Homo sapiens: one gene and its partners. The protein of the gene in region 5 interacts with the protein of the main gene of each other region in a pairwise test. Each region holds a gene or a part of one and is shown on either strand. Other genes may lie near its edges.

What was found.
Region 1: the proteins of ATF7IP (region 5) and TRIP12 interact in a two-hybrid assay, tested with the Homo sapiens proteins (one large-scale study listed by IntAct).
Region 2: the proteins of ATF7IP (region 5) and HEYL interact in a two-hybrid assay, tested with the Homo sapiens proteins (one large-scale study listed by IntAct).
Region 3: the proteins of ATF7IP (region 5) and EPG5 interact in a two-hybrid assay, tested with the Homo sapiens proteins (one large-scale study listed by IntAct).
Region 4: the proteins of ATF7IP (region 5) and SUSD1 interact in a two-hybrid assay, tested with the Homo sapiens proteins (one large-scale study listed by IntAct).
Region 6: the proteins of ATF7IP (region 5) and DMTF1 interact in a two-hybrid assay, tested with the Homo sapiens proteins (one large-scale study listed by IntAct).
Region 7: the proteins of ATF7IP (region 5) and SVEP1 interact in a two-hybrid assay, tested with the Homo sapiens proteins (one large-scale study listed by IntAct).

The regions. Positions count from the first base shown.
Region 1 is NC_000002.12:229,768,510-229,772,862, forward strand, and holds part of TRIP12 (E3 ubiquitin-protein ligase TRIP12), read right to left. Parts: intron 3,124-4,353; coding exon 3,010-3,123; intron 817-3,009; coding exon 722-816; intron 211-721; coding exon 107-210; intron 1-106. UniProt on the Homo sapiens protein: E3 ubiquitin-protein ligase involved in ubiquitin fusion degradation (UFD) pathway and regulation of DNA repair.
Region 2 is NC_000001.11:39,632,829-39,637,181, forward strand, and holds part of HEYL (hairy/enhancer-of-split related with YRPW motif-like protein), read right to left. Parts: intron 188-4,353; exon of another isoform or gene 84-187; intron 1-83. UniProt on the Homo sapiens protein: Downstream effector of Notch signaling which may be required for cardiovascular development. Transcriptional repressor which binds preferentially to the canonical E box sequence 5'-CACGTG-3'.
Region 3 is NC_000018.10:45,956,649-45,961,001, reverse strand, and holds part of EPG5 (ectopic P granules protein 5 homolog), read left to right. Parts: intron 1-4,353. UniProt on the Homo sapiens protein: Involved in autophagy. May play a role in a late step of autophagy, such as clearance of autophagosomal cargo.
Region 4 is NC_000009.12:112,136,840-112,141,192, forward strand, and holds part of SUSD1 (sushi domain-containing protein 1 isoform 2 precursor), read right to left. Parts: intron 1-4,353.
Region 5 is NC_000012.12:14,371,942-14,376,294, reverse strand, and holds part of ATF7IP (activating transcription factor 7-interacting protein 1), read right to left. Parts: intron 1-4,353. UniProt on the Homo sapiens protein: Recruiter that couples transcriptional factors to general transcription apparatus and thereby modulates transcription regulation and chromatin formation. Can both act as an activator or a repressor depending on the context.
Region 6 is NC_000007.14:87,183,082-87,187,434, reverse strand, and holds part of DMTF1 (cyclin-D-binding Myb-like transcription factor 1), read right to left. Parts: intron 3,039-4,353; coding exon 2,810-3,038; intron 1,607-2,809; coding exon 1,455-1,606; intron 1-1,454. UniProt on the Homo sapiens protein: Transcriptional activator which activates the CDKN2A/ARF locus in response to Ras-Raf signaling, thereby promoting p53/TP53-dependent growth arrest. Binds to the consensus sequence 5'-CCCG[GT]ATGT-3'.
Region 7 is NC_000009.12:110,366,104-110,370,456, reverse strand, and holds part of SVEP1 (sushi, von Willebrand factor type A, EGF and pentraxin domain-containing protein 1 precursor), read left to right. Parts: intron 1-440; coding exon 441-534; intron 535-3,896; coding exon 3,897-3,918; 3' UTR 3,919-4,353.

The DNA of each region.
Region 1 (4,353 bases), on a different chromosome or scaffold from region 5:
GGCACTGCAAGTGAGATAAAGAATCTCCTGCTGATGGTACTGAAGTTTCACACTCACAAACCCACCCATAGGTAGAATAAATGCTAAACATCAACATCGTACCCACCTCCAACAGGCAATCTTGGGCTACCAGTCACAAACTGGAGAAATAACCTCTGCTGCTCATTATCAAAACTACTGAGAATCTCAAACAAAAACTTCACAGCCCGACTATAACAGAAATAAATATACCAAAATTATTTCATCAGGTTAAAATAGAGTTTTAATCACACTGCATCGCATCACATGACATAAAAATTAGATTAGCACTTTTAAATTACACATACATTTTCCATTACAATGTACTTAAATTCGTTTCTGTTATGACTAGACTAGAATTCAAATGGAATGATTACAGTTGTAATAAGTAAGACTTGATCTGGTACTGTACAGATATTTCTGCTTTACTATATGTAATAATGGGGAACAAGATTAAATCTGTCTTCCCCAACCCCTAGTATTTTCACAGAAATACTTGAGAAAGAAACCCTTGGGTCTTAATTTCCCATCTTCAGAGAAATAAGGCCAAAACAGAAGTAAGCATCCATTAACAGGTAGACACATTTTAAAATGAACCACTCCAACTTTTGTTGTTTACACATGTGCGCATGTGTGTGTACACACACACCCCTCTCCACATTCTTCAGAATCAACAGAAAAACTGGCAGACCCCAGTACTTACCTGTCATGAGTATAACCATGATCAGGCCTACAGCATTCCATCAGTGTCTTTGCATCCCAAGTGTCTGCTTTACTGCCACAAAGGAGCTGATCCAGCTGTGAGTTTAAATAAGGGTAAAAAGAATTACTAAGGAAACATTTGTTTACGTGAGTGAAAATAAAGGTCTACGTGTACCATAAAAGAGTATCAGTCTCAGTACTAAAACCTTCTGCTTGGGACCTCTTTCCAAAAAAAAAAAAATAATAATAAAATAAAATAAAATTTAGAGATTCCATTTCCTTTTTAGCTGTACGCTATTAAGTACCCTGCCCATCTGCAGGGACTTGGTTCCTGAGAAACCCTTCCTCTCAAACCAAAAACACCTGATGACCCTTGATTTCAGTTTTCCTTTCTTCTCATTACTTTAGGTGCTTTAAATGGATAATCTGCTTCTAGTCAGGGAGATTTTATAAATCCTGGCTTTCAGAAACACAAAGGTATACAGTAACAGATGCCAAGGGAGAGAACATTGAGCTGGAGAAAGAAGTGGGAGAAGCAAGCTGAACTAGGACACAGCAAATGGGTAGGTCTTTACACTTTGTAGAGAGGCATGTCTACGCTACATGGTTGGTTGTATGGGGACCAACCCAGATATTATAGAATGAATATTAGAAAGCAATAAATGCTTTCATGTCCTTATACTTTGAGAAAATCCAATTTGAGGCCAATGAAATTTAATATCTATTATATAATGCTCACTGTCTGGTCCTATATATTTAAAGACAAAGCTTTGCTCTGTTGCCCAGGCTGGAGTGTAGTGGCCTAATCACAGCTCACTCCCGTCATGATCTCCTGGGCTCAAGTGATCCTCCAACCTCAGCCTTCCAAGTAGCTGAGACTACAGGTGCATACCACCACGCCCAGCTAATTATTTTTTTTATTTTAGACAAGGTCTCACTATGTTGCCCAGCCTAATCTTAAATTTCCGAGCTCAAGTGATCTTCCCACCTCCATCTCCCAAAGTGCTGGGATTATAGGCTAAGTCACTGTGCCCAGCCTATTTAATTTCCATTACTCTGTGATAGGGGTTATTCCAATTTTACAGATGAAACAGTCCTATCAGATACAGTAACTTGGATAAGGTTATACAGCAAGTGGTGAGGACCATGATTCTATTCCAGGTGACAAGCAGTGCCTACAAGTATCAGGCACACTACATGCTTAAGTAGACACAAATATAACTGAGATTAAGACGTTAAGTTAATCAAAAATTTATAGATTTAATCAGTAGTGAACATACACTCTAAAACTAGTATTCAAACAATAAATAAAAAGGTTTCAAAACTGAGGGAAACTGGACACATTCTAGAGGCTTTCTGTATCTCACTACCAGTGAGTAGTTCTTTTGAGATTTGGCACTTGAAATTAAAGACGGTAATATGGTTTGGCTGTGCCCCTACCCCAAATCTCATCTTGAACTGTAACTCCCACAATTCCCACCTGCTGTGGGAATGACCTGGTGGGAGGTAACTGAATCATGGGGGCAGGTCTTTCCCAGGCTATTCTCATAATAGTGAATATGTCTCACGAGATCTGATGGTTTCAAAAAGGGGAGTTTCCCCGCACAAGCTCTCGTCTTGTCTGCTGCCATGTGAGATGTGCCTTTCACCTTCCACCATGATTGTGAGGCCTCCCCAGCCACGTGGAACTCTAAGTCTAATAAACCTCTTTCTTTTGTAAATTGCCCAGTCTCGGTTATGTCTTTATCAGCAGCATGAAAACAGACTAATACAGGCGGCTAGAGAAAACCAAGCACATAAATCCATTTCTTCCATTCTCAGAAGTATTCTCTGTATTTGGCAATTAGATAATTTATAATACTTTCTTAAAACTTCAAGGACTAACTTTGATTGTGAAACAATGTCTCATCGAAACGAAGTTTAGTTAAGGAATAAAGTCAAGCCCCCTCCATGTCTCTCTTTGCTTCCACAGCAGTACAGAAACATGTAGAACATGCCACACACAGCACAAGTCCCCATTCTCCACTGAATGGCATTGAGGGTCTTGGCTGACAAAGATGCTATGCTTACTGTCACGCGTGGAACCCGCTCCCCAATCTAAGAGGGGACACCTATTTAACATTCTTCCTTGCTCAGGCAATTTCCTTGTCTTTCCCAAACATCCATCCCCTGCTATCTAACACCCATTTTTTTGTTTTTGTGCAACAATACGGTCTTTGACTAGGCAGCACAGAAACACTCCACTAAAATTATAGGTATGACCATTTCTTTTAGATATAAGCTACTCACTTCCTCCGGGTAGAAGTACTGAAGATGACTGAGTGGGAAGACTGATTCAAATCCATCTCTGAACGAATCAAATTGCCTAGAAACGCCTTCATTTAGTGCCCAGAATATAACCAGCTGCAAAAAGAAAGTTTTCAAAAAACTGTGACAAGATTTCAAATCTCTTTACTATTTAATATGTGGCAAAGTACAGTGAAACACCCTTCTGGATCACTTTATAAAGAACAAACAAGTTATTAAGACTTTAAAATAATCTGCTAGAAAACTACATGAGTAAAACATCAGGTCAACATCTAATGTGGGGCCCCTACCAATAACAAAATGTAAAAAAAAAATGCCATGTGCATTTACATTTAGTGTGTTTTAAAAATCTATTTATGTGAAACCCATGCCATACAGTTATATTACCTCACTGGATGGGAATCAAATGAGAATTTCCCAAGAGGATAAAATGTTATTGAGAATTAAAGGTAATGTTTGAAGAATCACAATTAGCCACTATTAAGGGTTTTTAATTTTTAACGTAAAATGTTTAGTTCTAAATCCTGTGAAGTTCTTAGAACCCAACCTGTCTGCAGTGTGTGCTTCCTACTAAAAGTAGGCAAAGCCTGGAAATGAAGTCACATGCAATTGAAGGGTAAGAAAAAGCAACTCTTATTGGTCCAACATTATCTAGTCATCACTGACTTTGGGTAGCCCAATGGGTAGAGAAACAACATTTTCAGATAAAAATGAAAACATTAGGATTTTCTTGATAGAAAATTATAAGCATTAGTATAAATTATTTTGAGATAACCTTAATCTAAATGTTAACTCATTATTTGCTAGTAAGATGGAAGAATAGCTTTCACAAAGTCAGTAGAAGAAACAGGATAAGAAGACAGTCCTACTGAATACTAAAAGGAATTACTTATGAATCACAGAACTGTTAAGTAACAGGGGACTCTGGTTATTATTATTATTTTTGAGACAGAGTCTCGCTCTGTCGCCTAGGCTGGAGTGCAGTGGCATGATCCTGACTCACTGCAACCTCCGCCTCCTGGGTTCAAGCAATTCTCTTGCCTCAGCCTCCCGAGTAGCTGGGACTACAGGCGTGCACCACCACGCCTGGCTAATTTTTGTATTTTTAGTAGAGACGGGGTTTCACGATGTTTGTCAGGCTGGTCTTGAACTCCTGACCTCGTGATCCGCCCGCCTTGGCCTCCAAAAGTGTTGGGATTACAAGTGTGAGCCACCACGCCTAGCCAGTTATTATTTAACCTATATTCTCTCTCTCTCTCTCTTTTAAAGCTGATGAAGAAAATGGTGATGAAGTTCTTCAGAGGCTCCATCTAAAGTCACAAAGCA
Region 2 (4,353 bases), on a different chromosome or scaffold from region 5:
TCCCCTTCTTCCTGGGGGCTCATTTCAACCCGGGTCAAGTCCTCTCATGCACTCTGGGCCCACTTTGGGCTCTTGGTCCGGACCTGCTCGGCCTCGCCCTTCGCCCCTCGCTCCTCGCTCCTCGCCCCTCGCGGCGGCCGTCGGGGAACCGCGTACCGCGGCGCGGTGGCTCCGGCTCCTGCAACCCGATCCCCGGGGGCGGGGCGGGCGAGGGCACTGGCCGGCGGCGGCGGGGCTGGGCCGGGCGGGTTGGGTTTCAGAGGGAGCCGCTGGGAACGAGCGTGGAAAGAGCAGATGCCGCTGCTTCCCACGGGCCGGGCGCGCCGGCCGCCCGCCCTCCGCCCCGCCTGCAGCTGCCGCCTCCTCCCACGCGGTGCGGCCGGGGGCGAAGGGGAGGCGGCATCTGGGTCACAGGCCCCTCTCGGATGCTCTGGGACACTGCCCTGGCCTCCCAGAAGGCCCCGTCCCTCCAACCTCGGCCTCTCCTCCCACTCCGGGCCTTCCCTCTGCGCCCCGGTTGAATGATGGATGTTTGCTCACACCCCAGGAGCTCCCATTACAGAGAAGAGGCTCAGCCCTGGGGGGGCTTTTCCTGCCCAGACTCTGACCAAAATAATCTCCAGCCCAACTGCTAACCCTTCTTCAGGTTTTCTGCTTCAGAAGCTCTCTTAGAATGGTGAGGATTCGCTGGGTCCACTGAGGCATCATTCATTTGGCCAACACTTCTAAGGCCCTATTCAGGCCTGGGTGGGTGCTGGTGCACTCAGCCAGACCCCAGCCCTTCCCTTCCTCAACTCAGCTCCAGTGGGCAGACACTGCACCAACAAACAACAAACAAGGTGACTCCCCTGCCGTTTCAGAAGACACAACGCCACACATCTGAACAGGAATCTGCAAGCTGGCCTTCACCCACACCTGCTCCTGCTGCCCCTGGGTTTCCCCATCTCAGTGAAGGTACCCCAGTTCTGCAAGGTGGAAAGCTGATGCTGTCTTTGATTCCTCCTCCTCCTCACCCCCACCTCATCAAAACCTGCCCACGCTATGTCTAAAATATATCTCACGTCTGTCCTCTTCCTCTCCGCCACTTCTCTCAATGCTACGCCTTTATCATCTTTCATCTGGGTGACTGCAAGAGCTTCTTGTTGGGTCCTTTTACACCCTCTTTTACTCTCTACAAGCCTATCTCCACACTGCAGGCAGAGTGATCATTGAAATCTGATCATATCACTCACTTAAAACTCCTCAGTGGCTCCCCAACTTTTGTTTGTTTGTTTTGGGTTTTTTTTAGATGTAGTCTCACTCTGTTGCCCAGGCTGGAGTGCACTGGCATGATCTTGGCTCACTACAACCTCCGCCACCCGGTTCAAGTAATTCTCCTGCCTCAGCCTCCGAAATAGCTGGGATTACAGGCACCCACCACCACGTCCAGCTAATTTTTGTATTTTTAGTAGAGACGGGGTTTCACCATGTTGGCCAGGATGGTCTTGAACTCCTGACCTCAGGTGATCTGCCCGCCTTGGCCTCCCAAAGTGCTGGGATTACAGGCATGAGCCACCATGGCTGGCCCCAATGTTTTTTAAGATCAAGGCCACCATCTTTCAGGTGGTCCAACTGGCCCCTGTCAACCCCTCTAGACTCAACCGTCTTCTTCTGTATGCCCCAGCCTATGAATGCACCAACTCCTTCATTCAGTTGCATGCACTGTCCCCTAGCCTAGGTCCACCATCTTTGGTTCACCCATCACCCCAAGCCCCAGTCCCTTTGCCCCATAACTTCTACAACCCATCAGATCTCAACTCAGATGGCACCTCCCTGGGGAGCCTTTTCTAACATTCCTCCTCCCACTAGTGTCCCCTGCTCAATACTCTCCTAGCACCCTGCTTTCACAGCATTTATGCCAGTTCATTGTTTTATATTTATATGGTTATTTGATTGATGTCTATCTCTCCAACAAATCCATAAGCTCCATGAGGCCATGAACCATGTCTGTTACATTCACTATTGCAGCTTCAGTACTCAGCAAGGGCTTGGAATACAGCAGAACTCATGGTAGAGCTTTCTTCTCTCACCCATGTCTTTGGCATCACTGGGGAACAGAGATGTAAGCACCATAAAATCTATGGCCTAGGACTTTGTGGAATGGGGGCGTATATGACTTAACACAAGGGTCCCAGCCCAAGGGTCCCAACCCTTTTGGCATTTGAATTTGGATCATTTTCATCAACTGCTCAGAGAAGGTTGCAGAAGAGACCAGATAGCATTTGTCAAATCCTACTGCTATGTCTCTGGCTTTGTCCAGACACATCTGGAAAAGGATATCTCCCACCCAAACATCTGGACAAGCCGACCTGGTAAGAGGTCTATAATAGCTCCTGGGAGGGAGGACCCAGCAAGCTAGGTCCAGGGCTTGTAAGGCCAGATCTTGAGATCTATGGGGCAGCTTGTTTACAAAGCCTCACTGGTTCACTGGGGACAAACCCCAAGAGCCAAGACACACTAAGAAACACGGCCTTTGTTCCCCCCAGCTTGATAAAGCGTCTTTCCGGGTATTAGGTTAGCCTTGCACACGTCACTGCCTCTCAGCCTGATCCCTCCGCTGGGACCATCTGTTGGAGGCTGACGCACCCATTTCAGGGCAAAGCAGTGCTGCCATTCCTTTTTCCAATCTCCTGGTCAGCTTGTCCCTGTCGTATTATTTCCCCCCTTCTCCTCTTCCCATATCTCAGAGGCAAACCTCACATTACAGTTTTCTTGGCAACATTATATGTCTTTCCCTCCTTTGAGCCTTACAAAAGCCCATATTACAGATGAGGTTGCTGAGCTTCAGGGAGCTAAAGCAGGTTGCCCAGCCTACCCAGCTGCTAAGGAGCAAAGCCAGCAGGGAATCCGCATCTTCTGGCTCCGCTTCAGCATTTTTTCCCTTCTAATTCCTACTTCCTGTCTGTCTGAATAGCCCTCCGGTCCCCTTATTTTTAAAGTTCCCAAGAGCCCAGCCAGAGCTCCCTTCCAGCCCGCGATCTGGCCCTGACAGTGGGATGAGGTGTGGGATTCTCTTGTCTGAGAATCTGAAAATGACACAGATTTTCATGGACCCAGAGAAGATATGTTGACCATCAAGATCTGCTCCATAGGCCTCTAGTGGCTCCTAGCCAGAATTCTGGGGCGGTCTCTTATGGGGGGAAGCTTTCCAGGTGGTCCTGACCACCCTCAGTGCTGACTTCCCCTGGGAACTCCCCCGTGGAACCCTTGCAGATGACCCTAATCATTTTGTGTCAGCCAAAGGCAGAATCACAATGTCCCAAATGAAGGAATCTCAGAGAGAACTGAGTCCATTTGTAAAATAAGGAAACTCAGAGGGGAAGGGATCTTCCCCAGGCCACACAGCAAATTAGAGGAAAATCGGAACTACAGCCAGGTCTACTCTAGTAGCTTTTTTTTTTTTTTCTTTTCTTTTTTGAGACAGAGTCTTACTCTGTCACCCAGGCTGGAGTGCAGTGGCACAATCTCAGCTCACTGCAACCTCCGCCTCCCAGGTTCAAGTGATTCTCCTGTCTCAGCCTTCCAAGTAACTGGGACTACAGGCACGTGTCACCATGCCCAGCTAATTTTTTGTATTTTTAGTAGAGATGGGGTTTCACCATATTAGCCAGGATGGTCTCGATCTCTTGACCTCGTGATCCACCCACCTCAGCCTCCCAAAGTGCTGGGATTACAGGCGTGAGCCACCGTGCCCGGCCTCTAGTGGCTTTTAATCTGGGGCTTTTGCCAGTGCACCCCATATATACATCATCCCGTCATGTAGATCTCAGAGCCAGTGCTTTTTGTTCTATACTGCACTTCCACATCCATTTGTCTAATTTATTGCACAATAGCACTGTAAGTGAAGTATTTTTTGGGCCATTTCACATTTAGGAAAAATAATCATTTTACAGGTGGAGTGACAGAGACACTGGAGTTAAGAATCACTCCAGTAAGTCCAGTCTTCACACTTCCGGTCTTTTCATTAGACCATGCTGTCTCATAAATATGTTGCCCCCCAACTGAATGGTGACCGCTTTGACAGCAACGTTTATTGGAAGTTACTTTGTGCCAAAGCAGGGAGCTATGTAACTTTATGTATGTTACTTCATCAAACCTTATCCTGCGAGGCAGGAGTGCTAATGTATTCCCATTTTGAACGCGAGAAAACTGAGGTTCAGAAAGGGGTAAAAGTCACTGGCCAAAGTTAATGGTGGTAAAATTCAAACTCAGGTCTATCTGACTCCAAGACCACCACCTTATATTGTGCAGGAACAGGACCCTGATCCAGTGTCTGACATGTGGCAGGTGCTCATTAGATGTTTGCAGAGGGAG
Region 3 (4,353 bases), on a different chromosome or scaffold from region 5:
GGTTTTAGGGGGGAAAATCAGGAGTTTGGTTTTACATATGTTAATTTTGAAATAAACATGTAGCAATGTGGAGTAGCCTTGGACATGTGAATCCAAGCCTATTCTACATCTTTACATGTTTTTTTCAAGTGATGAATAGAAACTTCCCATTTATTTCCCAAAACTTAAAAAAAACTTTAGTTTTAAATGATTACTTTCTGATTCCTCATTGCTTAAAGTGTGTATGAGTGTACACATACACACACTCTCACAGTGTACAACCCAGAAATGAAATGCCCAGAATTCCATCTCCTGGAAATAACTGTTGGTAATGGTTTGTTGTATTTTTCTTTAGGTTTTTTTCCCCATATACCCACACTCCAGAGCATATTTACTGTAATGTATAGTTAAGCATGTTTTTCTCTATTTATCAACTCTTTTTGTAAAATTTACTCATTATTGTTTCTCCATTTGAATGACTTTAAAATCGTTTTTTAATCTGTATGTAACTTATGTGGAGATCAAAAATAAAGAAATAGATTTTTCTTAATATGCCTGGCATTTTTAGTTGTAAGAAATATCTTTTGTTGGCATGATGACACCAGTCTGTACTTTCAACTACTAGGGAGGCTAGGCAGGAGGACCATTTGAGCACAGGAGTTCAGGTCTGCAGTATGCTGTGATTGTGCCTGCAAATAGCCAGTGCACTCTAGGTTGGGCAACACAGTGAGACCTTGTCTCTGATTTTTTTTTAAAAAAGGAAATACCTTTGGCTTAAATTATGTTACTTGATACACATGGAATTGATACACATAGAGTTGTCTGAATTTTACTTTGTGATCTGTAATGATTATTATATATACATTATGTCTTCCTTCTGTGTCTTTATTTATTTATTTTTATAAAGATAAAGATGGGATCTCCCTGTGTTGCCCAGGCTGGTCTCAAACTCTTGGGCTCAAGGGATCCTCCTGCCTCCCAAAGTGCTGGGATTACACGTGTGAGCCACTGCACCTGACCTTTATTTATTTTTAACTGAAGTAGGTAAAGGCAGTTGCTCTTGTTGCCCAGGCTAGAGTGCAGTGGCACAATCTCAGCTCACTGCAAACTCTGCCTCCCAGATTCAAGTGATTCTCTTGCTTCAGCTTCCCAAGTAGCTGGGATTACAGGCACCTGCCACCATGCCCGGCTAATTTTTTGTATTTAGTAAAGATGGGGCTTCACCATGTTGGTCAGGCTGGTCTTGAACTCCTCACCTCAGGTGATCCACCCACCTCAGCCTCGCAAAGTGCTGGTATTACAGGCATGAGCCACTGCACCCAGGCCTATTTATTTATTTATTTATTTATTTATTTATTTATTTAGAGACAGTCTCGCTCTGTTGCCACCCCGCCCCCACCCCAGACTGGAGTGCAGTGGTGCGATCTTGGCTCACTGCAACCTCCGCCTCCCAGGTTCAAGTGATTCTCCTGTCTCACCTTCCTGAGTAGCTGGGACTGCAGGTGCCTGCCACCACGCCTGGCTAGTTTTCTGTATTTTTAGTAGAGACGGGGTTTCACCATGTTGGCCAGGATGGTCTCAATCTCCTGACCTCGTAATCCACCTGCCTCAGCCTTCCAAAGTGCTGGGATTACAGGTGTGAGCCGCCCATGCCTGGCCCGGCCCCTATTTATGTATTTTGTGAGATGGAGTCTGACTCTGTCACCCAGGCTGGAATGCAGTGGCCAGATCTCGGCTCACTGCAACCTCCGCCTCCCGGGTTCAAGCAATTCTCCTGCCTCAGCCTCGCGAGTAGCTGGGATTACATGTGCCAGCCACCATGCCTGGCTAATTTTGTAACTGCCCAAGGGGTTCACCTTGCCCGCTGCCTAGACAGAGCCGATTCATCGAGACAGGGGAACTGCAATAGAGAAAGAGTAATTGACACAGAACAAGCTGTGTGAGAGACTGGAATTTTATTATTACTCAAATCAGTCTCCCCAGCATTCAGAGAGCAGAGTTTTTAAGGATAACTTGGTGGGTTGGGGGAAGCCAGTGAGCCAGGAATGCTGATTGGTCAGAGATGAAATCACAGGGAGTTGGAGCTGTTTTCTTGCACTGAGTCAGTTCCTGGGTTGGGGCCACAAGATCAGATGAACCAGTTTATTGATCAACTGGTGCCAGACCAGGTGTGAGCTTGATGGTACTTGCAGCACCAAAGTTTTTAATTTTGATGAAGTCCAATTGATCTTTTTATTTTGTTGCTTGTGCTTTTGGTGCCATATGTAAGAAGGCTTTGCCTACCCAAGTTTATAAAGATTTTTTTGTTTTCTTCTAACAGTTTAAAAGTTTTAGCTCTCACATTAGGTGTATGATCCTTTTTGCATTAATTTTTGTATATGATATAAGGTAAGGGTCCAATTTATTCTTTCATATGAGGATATCCAGTTGTTGTAGCACCATTTGTTCAAATTTCCCCATTGAATTGTTTTGGCATTCTTGTCAAAATCAATTTGCCATATATGTAAGGTTTTATTTCTGGATTCTCAGTTTTGTTCCTTTGATCTATTTGTCCATGTGCCAACACTATACTGTCTTTATTACTGTACTTTGTAGTAGATTTTGGAATTGCCAAGTGCGAGTTCTCCAACTTTGTTCTTTTTCAAGATTTTCTGTCTGTTGTGGGTCACTTGCATTTCTGTATGCAATTTAAGTATCAGTTTATCAACTTCTGCAAAAAAAGGTAGCTAGGATTTTGCAAGGCATTGTGTAGAGTTTGTAGGTCCATTTGAGGAATATTGTCATCTTAACAATATTGCGAAAGACATAGATTGTCTTTCCATTTAAATAAATTAAGTTGCATTTAATTTCTTTCAGTAATGTTTTGTAAGTTTCAGAGTACAAGTATTATGCTTCTTTCTCTCAATTTATCCCTAGTTTGTTCTTTTTATGCTATTATAAATGAAATTGTTTTACTAATTTCATTTTCTGATTGTCAACTCACTAAAATTTGGCCTCTGCCATACTGACCCTGCCTCAGCCTAGACTAGTAGAGTACAGGGGTCACAAAGTCAAATGCCTGCAGGAGCCAGGTGTATAACCTGGAGGAGTGAAGCAGGCTGAGTGGGACAGTGGTCACTGGGTCAGCCCGTGCCTGGTTTAGAGGGGACAGCCACTCTCGAGTTCTAGTTGATGGTTGCTGTGAGGTTGTGATGGTTTAGCATTGCCACATCTTATGATTTTCCAAGAAAAACTAGAAATCTGGATTTTTGTGTGAGAAATCCTAATTTGCAAATGTTAGCAACAAATCAGACACATACACACACATGCACACACAGTATAGGCCAAGCGAATCATATGTATTTTTAAGGATGATGTTTGAAGATGATGCCAGTGAACAAAATGAGAGTGAAATGTTTGATGTACCACTCACCTCCTTAACCGTAAGCGATGAAGAGTCCCTGATGTGTCCACTAACATTTCTCTTGCCGTAGTAACCATTTTCCCTCTTAATTTTTCTTTCTGATTTCTCAGTCTAAGAACCCTGTTTATTACAGCAAGTTTGCTAAACATCATTGCAGCATAGTTTGGGCTTGCTTTTTTGTTTTATTAACACTCATATAATGTTTTTCTATTATTTGTGATTTTAGGCAGTTTAACAAAGTAGTTTGTATGAGGTATGCATTGGGTGACTGACTTCTGGATCTGATGTCCACAGTTCACAGTGGGGAGTGAAGTAATTTGGAGGGTCATATTACTTCTTGAATCATTACCATTTGTAAATGTTTGGCAGTCAGGTTCATTTCAACAAGCTGACCTCAAATTCCATGTCAAAAATATTCATCTTTTTTTTCTTTTTAATATATAAAGGCCCTACTTTTTTGGCTATTAGTCTGCTGGACATTCAGAGCAGAATAATCCAAAATAACCAAGAGCTTGTATAACTCATGTTTGCCTGCCTTAAAATTTCTTCAAGAAAGTAAGTATTTGAGTGATTTCAATGAGGTTTTTAGTCTGTTTGAATGAAACAACTTTATTTAAATGTTATTTAAATAATTTTTTCTTCTTTATTCAGCCTAACTTCCTGTTATCTAGTTTGCGTATTAATGCCTGAAGGTTTTTTTGAAACCATAACTTATTTTTTAGTGAACAGCTTTTTTATGATGATAGAGATAATTTTGTACTTAGTGAAAAGTTGCAAATATAATACAGAGACTTCCCATGTACTCTTCACCCTTCATCCTCTTGTGTCGTCATCTTATATAACCGTACATTCTATGGCATGGAACAATGATTAAAACTAAGGAATTGGCCAGGCGCGGTGGCTCACGCCTGTTAATCCCAGCACTTTGGGAGGCTGAGGCGGACGGATCACGAGGTCAGGAGTTTGGCTAA
Region 4 (4,353 bases), on a different chromosome or scaffold from region 5:
CTAAGAAAAATCTCAAAAGATGAAGAGTTGACTCGGCAACAATGAATACCCTTCTGGCCGGGTCCTAGACCACACTGTGCATGAACGTGCATGTTTGTCTTGGCACCCCTCTCCTAGGGCCCTCCAGCTTTTTCATCATCACCTCCCATCTCCAGGGCACACTGACTGGGGCTGCCTTCTAGAAAAGTGCATCGGGCTCTCATCTTGGTGCATAAGCTCATGACATACAGTAAGTCACTTCCTTATCCTGGTCCTTAAACTCCTCTGTGAAATGGGAAATAATACCAATCTATAAAACTTACACACCTTAAAGAGCTGGCCACCTCTAGAGAATCAGGCTTTGCTATTAATGGACTTTGGAAACCATGTGCTCAGAAAGGAGCAGGCACAGCAGTGAGAAACCGAGGCCATGTAGTGACACAGGGGAGGAGGAGGAGGAGGAGGAGGAGGAAGGTGTCAGCGGGCAGAGGGAGCAGTTATTAGAGAAGGAAAAAAGAAGCGAAGATCTTTTAAATAACAGTTCTTTGGGAAAATGCAGCAAGCACTCTCCTCTAAATTAATTTTCTACATTCTCAGTCTAATAATCCAGATGATGGCTAATTTTCAAGGCAATCTAAATGGTTTTATATGGGGTTTCCTATGTAAATCCTTAGAGCGTTCTTTGATAGGCACTATGGCACATTTTAATCTAAGTTCTGCATTTTAGTTGATCCATTGAAAGATCATCTTAGAACTAAAATGTTATCTTTAGAAATTCTTAACCCCTGAGGATGATAATTAATGATCAAAATGCGTGTAGAGCCTACACAGCAAGTCAGAATATCAAAATGATTAACTTAGCCATGCACATCACTGGGGTTTCTTAATTATGCAATAAATTCAATGAAAATTGTGAGGGTTTCTCTTTTCTCCAAAATGAAAACAGGTTTCTTTGTCTGATATGTGAAAAATTCCATCATGCTCACTTTGGCAGCATGTATACTAAAATTGGAACGATACAGAGACTAGCATGATCCCTGTGCAAGTATGACATGCAAATGCATTAAGCATTCCATTAAAAAAATTTCTTTCAATACAGAAAGTATATAAAATATAAAAATTGGCTGGGTGCGGTGGCTCATGCCTGTAATCCCAGAACTTTGGGAGGCCAAGGTGGGCGGATCACCTGAGGTCAGGAGTTTGAGACCAGCCTGGCCAACATGGCGAAACCCCATCTCTACTAAAAATACAAAAAATTAGCTGGGCATGGTGGCAGACACCTGTAATCCCAGCTACGTGGGAGGCTGATGCAGGGAGAATGGCTTGAACCCAGGAGGCAGAGGTTGCAGTGAGCTAGATTGTGCCACTGCACTCCAGCCTGGGCAACACAGTGAGACTCCATCTCAAAAAAAAAATGTGTATATATATATATATATATGTGTATATACATATATATATATATGAAGTCCAGGATCCCAAACCCTCCCATTGGAAACTATCACCATTAACATTTTGATGTATGGCATTCTAAACATTTTTCTAAGCTTATCTGTATATAGGAACTTTTTCAAAATTAAGATTATTATTCATAGAATTTGTAACTCTGAAACATACTATTAGTACTTATCTATGTCAATAAATATTCTTTTTTTTTTTTTGAGACGGAGTCTTGCTGTGTCACCCAGGTTGGAGTGCAGTGGCACAATCTCAGCTCACAGCAACCTCCACCTCCCAATTCTCCTGCCTCAGACTCCTGAGTAGCTGGGATTACAGGTGCACGCCACCACGCCCAGGTAATTTGTTGTATTTTTAGTAGAGATAGGGTTTCACCATGCTGGCTAGGCTGGTCTCGAACTCCTGACCTCGTGATCAGCCTGCCTTGGCCTCCCAAAGTGCTGAGATTACAGGTGTGAGCCACTGTGCCTGGCCTGCAATAAATATTCTTTTTTAAATATTGTTTTTCTAACATAATTTTATTGGATACATAATATTCCATTTTAAGGGATTGATTCACTTAACCAATCTCTTGTTGTTAGACATTTGAGATTGTTTCTAATATTTCACTACAATAAATAGTTATAAACAAATATAACCACAGCAAATTAGAAGGCTTTACACTTCTTTGCATGCACAAATAAATTGGAAAATCTGGATGAAGTAAATGATTTTCTAGAAATACATAATTTACCAAAATTGATCTTAAGAGGGAAAGAAAAAGAATGGACATGATTAGATATACCAGCAAGTATAGGAAGAATTTAAAAGTAGTCCAAATAGTCCAAGGGCTACCTCTCCAATAGTGCCACATCCAGATGGTTTTATAGGTGAAATCTCCCAAATCTTTAAAAATTCTATTTGTAGTATTCCAGAAATAGAGAAAGAAGGAAATTTTTACATTCTTTTTTTTAAAATTCAGAATAACATTAATACCGAACTGAACAAAGATGGCACAGGAAAAGAAAATAGAGCAATTTCACTTATGAATATCAATGCAAGATTTATAAGTAAAATTTAGCAAATATAATCCAAATGAAAGGAATAAAACACCAAAAACCCAGATTAATTCATTCCAGCAATTAGTACTGATCATTATCAGGAAATCTAACAATATAACCCACACATTATTATTATTATTTTTTCTTTATGAGATAGGATCTTGCTCTGTCACCCAGGCTGGAGGGCAGGGTGTGATCATGGCTCACTGCAGCCTCAACCTCACAGGCTCAAGTGGTCCTCCCACCTCAGCCTCCCAAGTAGCTGGGACTATAGGCATGCACCACCACTCCCAGGCTGGTCTTGAACTCCTGGGCTCAAGCTATCTGCCTGCCTGGGCCTCCCAGAGTGCTGGAATTACAGACATGAGCCACTGCATCTGGCCACATCGTTATTTAAAAGAAGAAAAAAAATATATAATCACCTGCCTAAAAGACATGATAAAAATAACTTATTTCCAATTAAAAAAAAAAGAAATTCCTAAACAGTGGGAATAGATTGATGTTTCCTTTAGATTATGGACATATAGCCAAAAACTAGAAAAATGGTAATTAAAAAAATTTTTTTTCACTTTTCAGATGGAAACAGGCACATAAAATGATAATATTTGTAGACAGAGAAACAGAAAACCAGGTCAAGTGTGGTGGCTCATGCCTGGAATCCCAGCACTGTGGGAGGCAGAGACAGGCAGATCACTTGAACCCAGGAGTTCAAGACCAGCCTGGGCAACATGGCGAAACCCCATCTCTATAAAAAATACAAAAATTGGGGCCGGGCGCGGTGGCTCACGCCTGTAATCCCAGCACTTTGGGAGGCCGAGGCGGGTGGATCATGAGGTCAGGAGATCGAGACCATCCTGGCTAACAAGGTGAAACCCCGTCTCTACCAAAAATACAAAAAATTAGCCGGGCGCGGTGGCGGGCGCCTGTAGTCCCAGCTACTGGGGAGGCTGAGGCAGGAGAATGGCGTGAACCCGGGAAGCGGAGCTTGCCGTGAGCCGAGATTGCGCCACTGCAGTCCGCAGTCCGGCCTGGGCGACAGAGCGAGACTCCGTCTCCAAAAAAAAAAAAAATACAAAAATTGTCCAGGCATGGTAGTTCGTGCCTGTAGTCCAGTTACTCAGGAGGCTGAGGTGGGAGGATGGCTTGAGCCCAGGAGCACCAGTGCACTCGAGTCTGGGTGGCAGAGCAAGACTCTGTCTCAAAAAAAAAAAGAAAAAAGAAAAGAAAAGAAAGGAAAAAGGAAAAGGAAAAAGAAACAGAAAGCCAAAATTTTTAAAAAACTAACCAAAAGCCAGTGTCACCATAAAAGCAGAAGCAGCAAAACAAAGTGGCTGAAAATAATTCTGAAACTAGAATTCCTGGGTTCAAGTTCAGCTCTGTCTCTAGTTGTGTGACCTTAAACAAATTACAGTCATGCATCATTTAACAATCTGCATACATTTTGAGAAATGCATCATTAGGCAATTCCTTCATTGTGTGAAGTCACAGAGTGTACTTACACAAACCTAGATAGTAGAGCCTGCTACTCACTTAGGCTGTATGGTATACCTATTGCTCCTAGGCTACAAATTCACACAGCATGTTACTATACTGATTACTGTAGGCAACTATAACACAATAAGAAGTACTTATATATCTAAATATAGAAATGATACAGTAAAAATACAGAATAAAAGATAAAAAAATGATACACCTGTAATAGGGCACTTACCATGAATGGAGCTTGCAGGACTGGAAGTTGGTCTGGGTGAGTCAGTGAGTGAATAGTGAGTGAATGTGAAGGCCTAGGACATTACTGTACACTTTTATGTATAGTAATGTACATACAGTAATATACATACAGTAATGTACTTGCTGGCAGAGCAGTAAGTTTGTTTAC
Region 5 (4,353 bases):
TTGTCTCAATTTTGAGTAAGCATGTCCAGCAGATGTTTTTAAAGGAGGGCAAGGAGGAATCCTATGTGGAATTAGTGCCCAAAATAAATGCCTTCATCCCTAACTTTGCCAATGATGAATGCTGCCAAACCTTGCAGATATGACAATCAATGTGAGAAAATGGCTGCTTTTTCACCAGGAAGATGTTTACTGTAAATTTAGTGAATTTAGTAATCGTGTGGCGTTTTTTCCTTTAAATACCCGTTTGTTTTTTAATGAGTCAGTCCTAAAACTGGTCTCCATCACAAACCTTTACAAGTAAACTACTTTCTTAAATGCTTATTTACCTTACTAATGAGTGGTAATATGAAACCGACCTTTCCAAGTTACTTTTTAAATGCATTTACATTCTAGCTCCAGAAATCAAGAATATTATTTTCATAAATCTCCCTGTACTGCAGGGCTCCCTGCACATAGTTGCTTCTTAATAAATATTCATGACTGACTAATTGATTCACCAATTGATTAAAGCTAGAGATATGTGTGAGGCACAGATGCTAAGCATTTTATATATCTAATCATATTTAACCCTCACAACACTACCATGTAGGTGGTAACACCACATTTTAAAGATAAAGAACACTGAGAGGAGACACTAATTGCCCAGGTCCCAATACAAAACTACTGTTCTTTCCACTTCACTGTATAACTAACTGATTTTAGGAAAATTTTTTGTTTTTTCTTTTGTTCTTCTTTTCTTTCTTCATTTTTTTATTTATTTTTATCTTTCAATGTTTAAATCATTTAAAGTAAGTTTGGTGGGGGAAGAGGATTATACAAACCTAAAATACAAAATAATTATATCATTCCATCTTTTCCTCAAACCCTTATTAATTTACATACGTAGGTTCTTCACAGTCATATTTTAGAAACTTTTTATTAACAAGCAACTGGTTCTTAATGGATGACATTGAAAACTGTTTTTCCTAAAAGCAACTATTTATTATTTTTCATATGTAAAGTGCCTGTCAAATCTTCCCATGACAATTCATCATGTGGGTATTTGCCATCTGAGTAAATTACATGTTTGATTAAAAAAAAAAAGTTCTGACATCTGTGGATAATGAGTTAAATAAAAGAAAATAATTAGAATATCTTATTCCCTTTTTTTTTTCACCTCCACCTAAAACGAAGGAATTCTATTCTTTCAATAAGCAAGTATTTATTGAATATTAAGGGAGGCATGGTGGAAAGCAAGGCATGGTGGAAAGCAATCTTACACTTTTAATAGTGGTCTTATCATACCTTATTAGAAAGGATTTGTCTTAAAAAATTGTCAGATATATCAATAAGATATGATTCCTAACCCCAGGAAACTTATAAAGTACTACACAAAAAACAAATAACTATAAATATAAAAGTGGAAAGGAATAAATGCCTTTAAAAAATATATGAAGTAAAGCAAAGAAAAATTAGAGAATTTCCAGTTGAGAGCAACAACATGCTTTAATAGGCATACTATGTGGGTGCCATGGCAACTATGACTTTTATTCACAAAAACCAAGGATTTGTATCACAGAGCTATTAAGAGTTCTCCTAACACACTACCTTCCTTTCTGGCTCTAAGATTTTGAACATACTATTTATTCTCTTTACTAGTATTATCTGTCTAATTCATTCCTTAAAATACAACTCCCATAAAATCTCCTTGATCTCCTTCCAACACTCTCACCACTTTCTGTACCCTACAAAAATATATATTGTTTTACTTGTCATATTCTGTAGAAAGCTACTTTTAACTACTTACTTATTAATCAGGTAAGTTTTGCCTATATGCAGAGAATTTACAACCACAATCTTTTTACCTGTGTATATTACAAGGCCCTTGGAAGTCACATTTTCGGCCAGGCACAGTGGCTCACACCTGTAATCCCAACATTTTGGGAGGCCAAGAGGGGAGGATTGCTTGAGCCCAGGAGTTCAAGACCAGCCTGGGCAACAAGGCAAGACCCCCATCTCCACAAAAAAAAAAAAAAAAAAAAATTACAAAATTAGCTGGGTTTGGTGGCATGTGCCTGTAGTCCAAGCTACCTAGGAGGCTGAGTCAGGAGGATCCCTTGAGCCCAGGAGGTCAAGGTTACAGTGAGCCATGATCACACCACTGCACTCCAGCTGGAGTGACAGAGTGAGACCCTAGTCTCAATTAAAAAAAAAAAAAGTCATATTTTCCATCATGGAAAATGTATATTTTATACATACAGTTATAAACAGAGAAAAAAAAATCTGGATAAAATAATGCAAACATAAACTATTCAAACAATTGTCACTCGATTCATCTACAGTCCTTTTGAATTAAGCAAGTTAACCTGTAAAGTTCAAAAATACTACACTGAGTTTTAAAAATTTGAAATTCTAATTCTTGCAAAACTAATCATAATGTTTTCAACGGCAAGCAGAGAGGGGAAGAATTCTATCAAATATAAATATTTATAATAACTGGGACCCCAACCACAAATCATGAACACAAAACCCCCAAAATACCATTTCAATGGAAAATATACAGTTATACTATAACTGAACCTAAATCTTAAAAGAGAAATAGTTTTCAGTACCAAATTATGAAGTACTTTGAGACCACTTCTCCCAATTCCTTATATAGCAGAAAATGCTATTCATTAATATCCATTTCTCTTTTATAAAATTCTCTAGTTTTAGCTAAGCATATGATTATCCAGCTAGATATATTTCCCAGACTTCCTTTCCCAGCTAAATATGTCCCAATGACTAAATGATCACACATAAACCATGAGTCAAAGTGCTATGTGCCACTTCCATATCATGCTCTCAAAAGAAAGAATATGCACTCCCATTGTTCTTTCTTCCTTGCCTCTAGCTAGTAAAACTAGAGAGTAATCATGTTTCACCTAGTGATGGAAGCCATATGTTAAGGCAAAACCACTTACAAACTCTAAACAGTCTTACTTTGTATGGTTACATGAGAAAAAAACATGTGTCATCTTTAAACAACAGGAATGGAGTCTCCTATACTGTGGCAGCTTAGTTTTTACTCTAATGGAATTCACTTCTGACATTTACCACCTAAAAGGAAATAAAAGAGTTCAAAAGCAGTCTCTCTTTTCCCTTACATGCTTTTTCCTATGACATTCTATCTAATAAGAGTAACAGGGCAGATATACATCTAAGGCTCCAAAGCCTTAGCTGGGAATAAGCTGCAGCAGTCAAGTCATCCTTTATTGTTCCATCAAACTCTTTCTCCTGGTCCTCAAAACAGCAGATTCCCTTTCCATCTTTTTAGCTTTATCCTTCTACAAAATGGTAGGCATTATCACTGAGAATTACTGAACCAAAGAAAGTTCCTTTTACAGCTTTGACAGTTCTGAGGACAACTATTCTAACATACAAATCAAATTTCTTATTAGAATGTTAAATTATTAGAATGCCAAGAGTGATGGACACATAATTTCTAGGTATCAAACCAGATAATACTTCCCCAAAGTAGCATAGGGCTATACAAACAACAAAGAAAGGGAGAACGGATCATATATAGTAAGACATTATGGCATTACTACCTCACATCACCATCATACAAAGGGGTCCTCTCTCCCAAATACAGCTAGTTACTACCAGTTATTGGATATAAAAGAACACAAAATGTTTCTTATAATATTCTGAGCAATGGAAAACTGCAGACATGAATAAGTGCATATTTCTGATGGCAAAGTTAATAAGTCATCTTCATTTCCCAGATTCTCATATTCATATAGGTCCAACTATAAAGACTCTCAGGAAGGTATAACTGTTCCCTTAGGCCTATGGTATTTTTTTTTTTTTTTTGAAAAGTGGCTGAGGTACCTGAGTCATCCTCTTAAAGATTCTAAACTCCAAATGATCGAAATTTAAAATTGAAACATTCACACCATATAAACAAGCACTAGTAGCCCTGATCTACTTATTCTTAACTGAAAGTGCTCCCCAGCACTCACTCTCTGTCTCCAATACAAAATGGTTTCCACCATGCAAGCTGAATCATCTATAAAAAGTTTAATTTTCTTTGTTTTCAACAAATTAAAATGCCTGGAGGAGCCCCTGATTTACTCTGTGGATGGCAGGACAATCTGAGAAAGAACATGGCAAAGTAATGTTTAAATACTCTTGGCCTCTCTAATAAAATATAAGGTCAAACAAGCAAGAAGTTTAAAAGAGAGTTCCACTAAAGGATAGGCAATTTCTAAGTACTCTAGGAAAGTGACAAGGACTATGGTCTCTGAAGCTAATTAATGACATTAAGGTAATCTGTTTAAATAATGTTAAAACATCACCTAATTTTTCAATCAATAATATGCCCCACAACTG
Region 6 (4,353 bases), on a different chromosome or scaffold from region 5:
CCCCAATAGCTGGGACTACAAGCACATGCCCACCATGCCTGGCTAATTGGTTTTTATTTTTTCTGTAGTAATGGGGTCTTGCTATGTTGCCCAGGCTGGTCTCAAACTCCTAGCGTCAAGTGATCCTCCTGCCTTGGCCTCCCACAGTACTGGGATTATAGGCATAAGCCACCACACCTGGCCTATACCTGGGTATTTTAAAAAACCACATTTTCATCAAGGCAAAGTTCCTCAGCATTAAATTTTCCTTTGGAATAATGGAAGTTAAGAGTGCTATAATAAGGGGAATAAATTTAGTAACCTAAATTAAACAGACTGTACAACTAAGTTTAATACCTAAATGCAAAACAGGCAACAAAAAGTATGCTTCACTTTAAGCAAACCCAACTTAAGATCTCTAGATTTATATAATTAATAAAATTAGAAAATTACAGAGCCTTTGTTCTACAAAATTATCACAGAATTTCTCTAACACACCTAGCTAAGATATTTGAAATTATACAACTCACAAAAGTTGACTTAAACTTAGGTTTTCAGAAGTACATCTTTGTACAAAATAAAAATATAGTCATCAATCACTTAAGGATGGGGATATGTTCTGAGAAATGAGCCATTAGGTGATTCTGTCATGGGATCATCACAGTGTACTTACACAAACCTAGATGGTACAGCCTACTACACACGTAGGCTAGATGATCTATACAGTCTATTGCTCCTAGGCTACAAACCCTTACAGCATGTTACTGTACCAAATACTGTAGGCAACTGTAACACAATGGTAAATATTTGTGTATCTAAACATAGAAAAAAAGTAAAAATACAGTATTTTAATATTGTGAGACCAATACTATGTATGACATCTGTTGTTGACTGAAAGGTTATGAGTGGCCAGCTATGCTGGCTCATGCAGGTAATCCCAGCACATTGGGAAGCCAAGCTGGGAAGATCACTTGAGCCCAGGAGTTGGAGACCAACCTGGGTAACATGGCAAGACCTCATCTCTACGAAAAAAAATAGCTGGACATGGTGGTGTGTGCCTGTAGTCCGAGCTATTCAGGAGGCTGAGGTGGGAGAATCACTTGAGCCGACAGGTTTAAGGTTACAGTGAGCTATGATCACACCACTGCATGTCGGCCTGGACAACCAAGCTAGACCCTGTCTCTAAAAACATAAAAATTAAATCGTTATGTGGCATGATTTTATTTCCTCCTGATAGTTTACGTAGAAGAACAAGAATAAGTGTGTACATTTTCATTTTAGGGGCTTTAGGAATTACAAACAGTATTAACTCTTCTCTGGGGAAGGAAACAATTACTGAGAGAAACAGGGAAGTGGTGTAAGTAGAAATCTGCTATGATATCTCTAGCTGGGGCAAAGAACTTCTAACCTCTCACTCCTAAGGAGTAAATATGGTAAGAAAAGGGGAGGAGCTTAAAAAGTAAGTAATACATTACCAGGGAACGAAACATCCTTATGGTTTGCAATTTGCCTTTTGATGGTCCACCATTTACTTCGTAGCCATTGTGGTGAACGGACACTACTCCATCCCTCAGCTAACAGATCCCAGTTAATGTCATTTTCATCAGCTACATCAAGTTCTGCTATCCTACAGTTACAAAATAAGCATCGTTAGACATTAAATTAATTTCTCTATAAGAACCCCTCCTCTGACTACAGGTAATTGCACTGGCAAATAAAGGGAATGGCAGGTTATGCCAATGAGATGCTATTGTTAAGTTACACGGGAAAGGATTCCAGGAGTGCAGATCTGCTTTCAGAGCTAACAGCTAAGAAATACCAACAGCAACCACTTTTAATTAAAGGTACAACCAATGGGCTAAACTATAAATGGTTAGAGCCAGATGAGGCACTGTGAAGGAAAAGGAGTATGCTAAAGGTTAGAATAAGAACAGATTTAGTTGTATATATGCAATGTTTCATAGTGTGGCATTTACTAAGTCATTTACTTCCTGGATCTGAGCGTTTCCATTGTTAAGCAAAAATATTTAGAAATGAGCTATTTATAAAGATGACTAGTTGAAAAAAAAATCCAAAACAAAATAACACAAAAGCAATAGCTGCAATCAAAAAACAACACAACAGTACAACAAAATTTGAGGTTTAAAAAAATCTGTTCGTTTTCTAGCTTTGTTGTGACAATTTGATTTTCGGTAGGGAGTAGCCATGGTGACAGTCTCTATTACTTCAGGGTCTTAAATAATTTCTTGCTAGTATTTTTGCCCATTTTAGTTAATAAATCTTAATGGTTAAACCAGCTACTTAAAAAAATAAGCTGGGATTATGATATCTTAAAGCTTTTTTGAATTTGTATGAAATGGATGTGTTTGATTTGGTCTACTTTGGAGGTGTGGAGGTAACTACAGACTGGGCCCCCTTCTTGGCAATCTTAGCACAGTAGCCAAGGATTGAAGGGCATGGAGACTGAACAGCCCTCTTATCCTAAACGTGTTCCCCCTAGGCTAGGACTGAGGCACATTGGTGGGACAGTGGAAAAGCTACACTGCCGCTGCCTGTGCCATACCTGTTCTGTGGATATAGAGAGGACTTCAGTCTCCACGCCTTCAATCTGGTACTTTGCATGAGCACTAAACCCACTAAAAAAAAAAAGGAACAAACACAACACAAAAAAAGAGCTCAATATGAAATACTTAAGATCTTAAACAGTAGTGCTCTATGGAAAGGATACTTTTCAGACACTAGGCATCCAGGAAAACCAAAAGAGGAAAGTCTATCAAGACATCCACAGAAATTAAGTTGCTTTTGTCATTACAAGATTCAGGACACAAACCTGAGGATGAGATTGATTTCATCTTCCTTGGTCCATTCAGTACCCCCACTCTGTTTCCAATTCAGGTAGTTGAGCCATTTAGAACGACATTGCTTTTCTGAGCGGGTACCGACTCGTTCAGCCACAGCTGCCCAAGACACACCCTGTGTGACTATGTCACCTGGCTCAGTGCTTGTCAACTCATGAACCACTTCTGCAAGTCTCTTTTCTTCTTCTTCTGTCCACTTCCCTGAAAAAAGGAAATCATCCAGACTACCACTGCTAACTTCTTTTACAAATCTGATTCAGCCCTCTATTTACAAGGACTGATAGGAAGTAAGCAATAGTACTAAGAGTTTGTTTCTGAATGACCCTCTGGTGGAAAACCATATATACCCACTAAGACAGTTTCATTTTACTAGCCCAGTAAGGGTCTCAGTAGAAAAGAAAATAAAGAATCCTAATGGAAAGCACTGACCAATTATGAAAAGAAAAACCACCCAAAACATAACTACAAAGAAGAATGTATTCTCAAGTTACACTAAGTCCTTTATAAACAGTGAAGTGGGAAGAGCTTCGTCAATGGCTGACAGACAAGAAATGGCATGCTTTTTTTCTTACTGTCACCTAAGATTCCCTGCTCTGCAAAAGTAAGTTCAAGAGGCCATTACTTATAGGAATGAATGATGAGGGACAAGGGAAATTACACCAATGGGCTCAACCTATTTTAGTAAAAACTAGGTTTCTACCATCTTGTTTCCTCACTATCCCAACTCCAAGCTACTGTGATGAAATATTAGTAAAGTCTGATACAAGTATTTACTTTTATTCCTGTGTTTTCTCAACCCATAAACCCACTAATAGATAACCCCAAATGTTCCTCTCTGTCTTTTTCTTATGGAGCTAGAGCAGAAAAACAGAAAGGGAAAAAAGCCATTTTTTTTCATCTTCTTTACCTCTGTTTCCATTTTGTTATTACTAGCTGAAAACCTCTAGAAAATTTCAAAAAGACTGTGCTTGCTTTGGGATTCCATTCATCTAGCAAATGTTTATTGAATTTTCATTATATGCCAAGCACAATTATGAATACTGTGGATGGATTCAAGACAAAGTTCTACTCTCCTATTCTAGCATGCTGTGAAAGGATGGGACTACTTTGAGACTGTGCTGTTTCATGGCATGGCCTCATCAGCAGCTGTATGTCACAACATGAGAAGGAAGCAGGCAGATCAATCAATCCCTCAGGTTGGCAATCAGGAAATGCCACTGTGTCCTTCCAAATTTTGTTACCAAAAGGGGTTCTGTACTCACAGCATCTTACATGAAACTCTGAGATCCTATCCTAAATCTAAAGCTTACAGCCCTGCTTCTTTCATTAAGCTGGCCATGTCACAGAATGACAAAGTTGGTAGAAGTTATGTTCTCACTGCCCTGCAGGTAACAGTGATAGTGCAGTAGTTAAGCAGGAAAGAATTCTGATTTCATTTTTAGAGCAGGGGGTTAAGGTCAAAATGTATATGCCCTGGAAGCTAAAGCTAAACTTCAGAAATTTTTTTTTTAATTGC
Region 7 (4,353 bases), on a different chromosome or scaffold from region 5:
AGAGTTCAATGCTAACTCCCTCGAGGAATTTACAATCTTGAGCTTCAAGTCAGTGGAAAGAAATGTACAATCTAATTGAACACAAAAAAATTTATAGTTCAAAACATTCAAAGTGTCAGATTGGTTGCATAAATTAAAAGAGATTAGAGAAGAGGAAAATCAGTGGACTTGGAGTGATCAGCAAAGGCTTCAATAAGTAGGTAGAACTTAATCTGGGACTTAAATGTGAAAATTGACCAGCTTGGAAGGAAAAAGGGAGGTGGTACCACATAAGGATGTGAAGTCAAGCAGAACAGCAGAAATGGATAATGCTAACGGTATATGAAGACCAGCAGTGGCTGCTGCAGGAAGTAGAGTCAAATCTTATCCTACGTGCCTTTATGGATATCATCAGAATTGCTAAGTATTAATTAAATAAATGCATGGGTTTTTTATTCCAGCTGTTTGCCAGTCTCCCTGCTTAAATGGTGGAAAATGTGTAAGACCAAACCGATGTCACTGTCTTTCTTCTTGGACGGGACATAACTGTTCCAGGTAAGATAACCAAAAACTAATGTTCGCCTATAACATGAAGACTCTAAAATTCAAGTAAATTGTCCTAAGAGCCAGAAGTTATCTCTGTCTAGTTTGACTGTAAGTATTTTGTATGTGAAAACATCCATTTTGAGACAGGCTCTCTAAATTTGAATTAAAGCCAAAGCTAAGAAATATTAGTTCAGGATTGACAAAACAAGAATATCTCAAAAATAAGCAGTCTTGTGCTCACTTCAGCAGCACATATACTAAAACTGGAACTTCACAGAGAGGATTAGTATGACCCATGCTAGAGGATGACACACAAATTTGTGAAGCATTCCACAGTTTTTGCAATTAAAAAAAATCGGTTATATAAATAAATAAATAAACTTCTTGAACAGAAGATTGCATCCTACAGATGCAAGGATGTAAAATAAATAAACTCAATGTAATTTTATTGAAAATGACCCAATAGATGTTTAAGTTCTTCATTACAATAAAAATAGTATTGAATTGATAAGAAACGTTTATTTTAAAGTAATATATTTTGTATTTTAGTGTTTCTATGCGTAGCATTTCATTGACTACAAAAAGATTATGTAAAAATATGTTTTTTCATCGGTTTCTTATTTCTGACCAGATAAATATCACAGTTTAAAAATACTATCACAAGTCAAAGGGAAAATACTTAAAAGATCATTTATAACTTTTTAAACATCAGGAAAATATCAGCCATATTGTGACATACCACAGATAAAATATTTTCAATATTCAAACATTGTCCTCACCAATGTTGCAATGTTGAAATATTATCAGCTATATTTTAAGACTTTCAATATATATCACTGCACTTAGATTTGTATTATGTACACTTACCCCTACCATATAGGACTCATTAAAAACAAATGGGTATTTCCATATTCATTTTTTAAAGTGGGAAAAATTCAGTTAACTGAAAACTTTTATTTTTCATTTCCTGATTTGTTATTTTGATTGGAATGTCAAAGTCAACTTGCAAATATAAAAAAGCAATTAAAGTAAAACCTAACAACAACAAAAAAATCTGTCTAATGCCAGTGAATTTCCTCACATCATCTCAAGTATATGCCATCTCTGCAAAAGGAGAAAAAATAAACTGAACCCTAAACAGCAAATTTGAAATGGACAAATATATTTAGAAGCTGCCAAGATTATACCTTTACCTGAGAGCAGAGCTGAATTTAAGAAAATGAGAGCCAAAAGAGAGGAAATAAAAGAGAAAAAACAGTGACTCAAAAAAGAAGTATTTAGTACTTTTTTATAATATTAGATTTTATATTTCAACCTCTTCATTTTTCAGATAAAGAAAAGCCCAGAGAGAGTTTGCATGATTTAAAAACTGTCGATAGGAGTTCTTTCTTGATTGAGGAAAGGATAATTATTAGCATGTATTAAAATACTGTACATTAATCAGGAAAACAAGATCTAGATTTTTTACGCAAAAGTTTGATATAGGCATCCAAGAAAAATAATGGCAAATTAAGCTGAGAGGTGTAGCTCACCTTCAAGGGAAGGCTAACTAGCAACCCAGAGGACCAGACAGGTTCCTCCTCCTGTATATACTGTAATTCTTGCTAAAACTCTAACTAGTTTAAGCAAAGAAGAGAATTTATTATCACAATAGAGGGACCTTGTATGGAACCCAAGGACAGAGGAGTGGTTGAGCATCAGGAGGACCAGACTGGGGACTTGAAAGCCACGTGTACCTCTCCACCTCCCATGTCACCACCTCTTCCAGGGTCTCCTCCATCCTGTCTAGCTACAGAGTGGTTTTCTTCTGTTTAGTTCATGTGGAAGGGAAGGACAGAATTTCTCTTTTTTTTTTAAGACAGAGTCTCACTCAGATGCCCAGGCTGGCATGCAGTGTGCAATCTCGGCTTACTGCAACCTCCACCTCATGGGTTCAAGCGATTCTGTCTCAGCCTCCTGAGTAGCTGGGACTACAGGCATATGCCACCACACCCACCTAATTTTTGTATTTTTAGTAGAGATGAGGGTTCACTATGTTGGCCAGGCTAGTCTCGAACTCCTGACCTCAAGTGATCTGCCCGCCTTGGCCTCCCAAAATGCTGGGATTACAGGCATGAGCCACCGTGCCTGGCCAGGACAAAATTTCTTACAGAATTTTTTACATGTCACCATACAGTATCCGGAGACATAGTACACTGTCCCAGTTTAAAAATCCAGGACTCTGATTGGTCCAGATTGATTCAATGGCCAAGCATGAATCAATGTCCTAGGTTGGATTATGTTGTACCAACATAAAGGGTAATTTTGGCAAAAAACTGGGTAAAAGGGAGGAGAGTCTGGCAATTCCCAGAAGAAAAGAAAGTGGGAGGGGGAAGAGTGCTTGTCTGAGAAATAAACAATAAATGTTACCGTATAAGTTTTTCCTTCTCTCCTACGAGACTGAATGCCTTAAAGTTTGTATGCTGGGCTGAGTGTGATGGCTCACACCTGTAATCCCAGCAATTTGGGAAGCCAAGGCAGCAAGCGGATCACTTGGGCCCAGGAGTTCAACACCAGCCTGGGCAACATAGGAAGATCCCATCTCTACAAAAAATACCCAGAAAAATTAGCCAGGCATGGTGGCACACACCTGTAGTCTCAGCTACTGAGGAGGCTGAGGTGGGAGGATTGCTTGAACCCAGGAGGCAGAGGTTGCAGCGAGCCAAGATTGTGCCACTGCACTCTAGCCTCGGCAACAGAGTAAGATCTTGTTTTAAAATATATATATATGCCTAGTGCCTTGTACAGGCACAAAAGTCGCTGCTCAATAAAGGTTTGTTAACAGATGGAGCAATTTCCTGGCATGAATGTCAGTTGGTAGAGAAATGCCTTGTGGCATCCATTAAATCCCTCAATGTTTACCTTCTCTACTGATAAATAAGACTGACCTGGCCTTTTCTCCAGATAATTCAGTTGTTCAGAAGGAAATTGTGTTTCCTCTGACCTCTGTGCACATCTTCAGAAAACTGATCCTAAGCAAATATCATAATGAAAAACCATAGATTGTTAATGGACTAAGAGACCTTTAGGTTCATTAGCTCCAAACCCCTCATTTTACAGAAGAGAGAATTGTAAGATAGATAGAAAACTAGTGGCAGAATCAAGAGTAAAACTCAGGTCTGATGCTTCTCAGATCTTTCCATAAGTTAGCACTTGTTTCCCATGCCTCTTAGTTATCTCAAAGAATGACCCCCATCCGTATAAACATCACAGATAATGCCCAGGTATCTGGGACTTTCAATCCTGTTTTCATCAACTCCTAAAGAGATGTTAGCTCTTCAGTTCAATTTTTTCTTTTGAATCTATTTGGTTGCTTTTTTTTTTTTTTCCAGGAAAAGGAGGACTGGGTTTTAACCACTGCACGACCATCTGGCTCTCCCAAAAGCAGGATCATCTCTCCTCGGTAGTGCCTGGGCATCCTGGAACTTATGCAAAGAAAGTCCAACATGGTGCTGGGTCTTGTTTAGTAAACTTGTTACTTGGGGTTACTTTTTTTATTTTGTGATATATTTTGTTATTCCTTGTGACATACTTTCTTACATGTTTCCATTTTTAAATATGCCTGTATTTTCTATATAAAAATTATATTAAATAGATGCTGCTCTACCCTCACAAAATGTACATATTCTGCTGTCTATTGGGAAAGTTCCTGGTACACATTTTTATTCAGTTACTTAAAATGATTTTTCCATTAAAGTATATTTTGCTACTAAATAATATTTTGCTGGATAGTACCATTTTATGAGGTGGCCAAGGGATTCATAGAGAGGACTCATGATCTTTCATCTG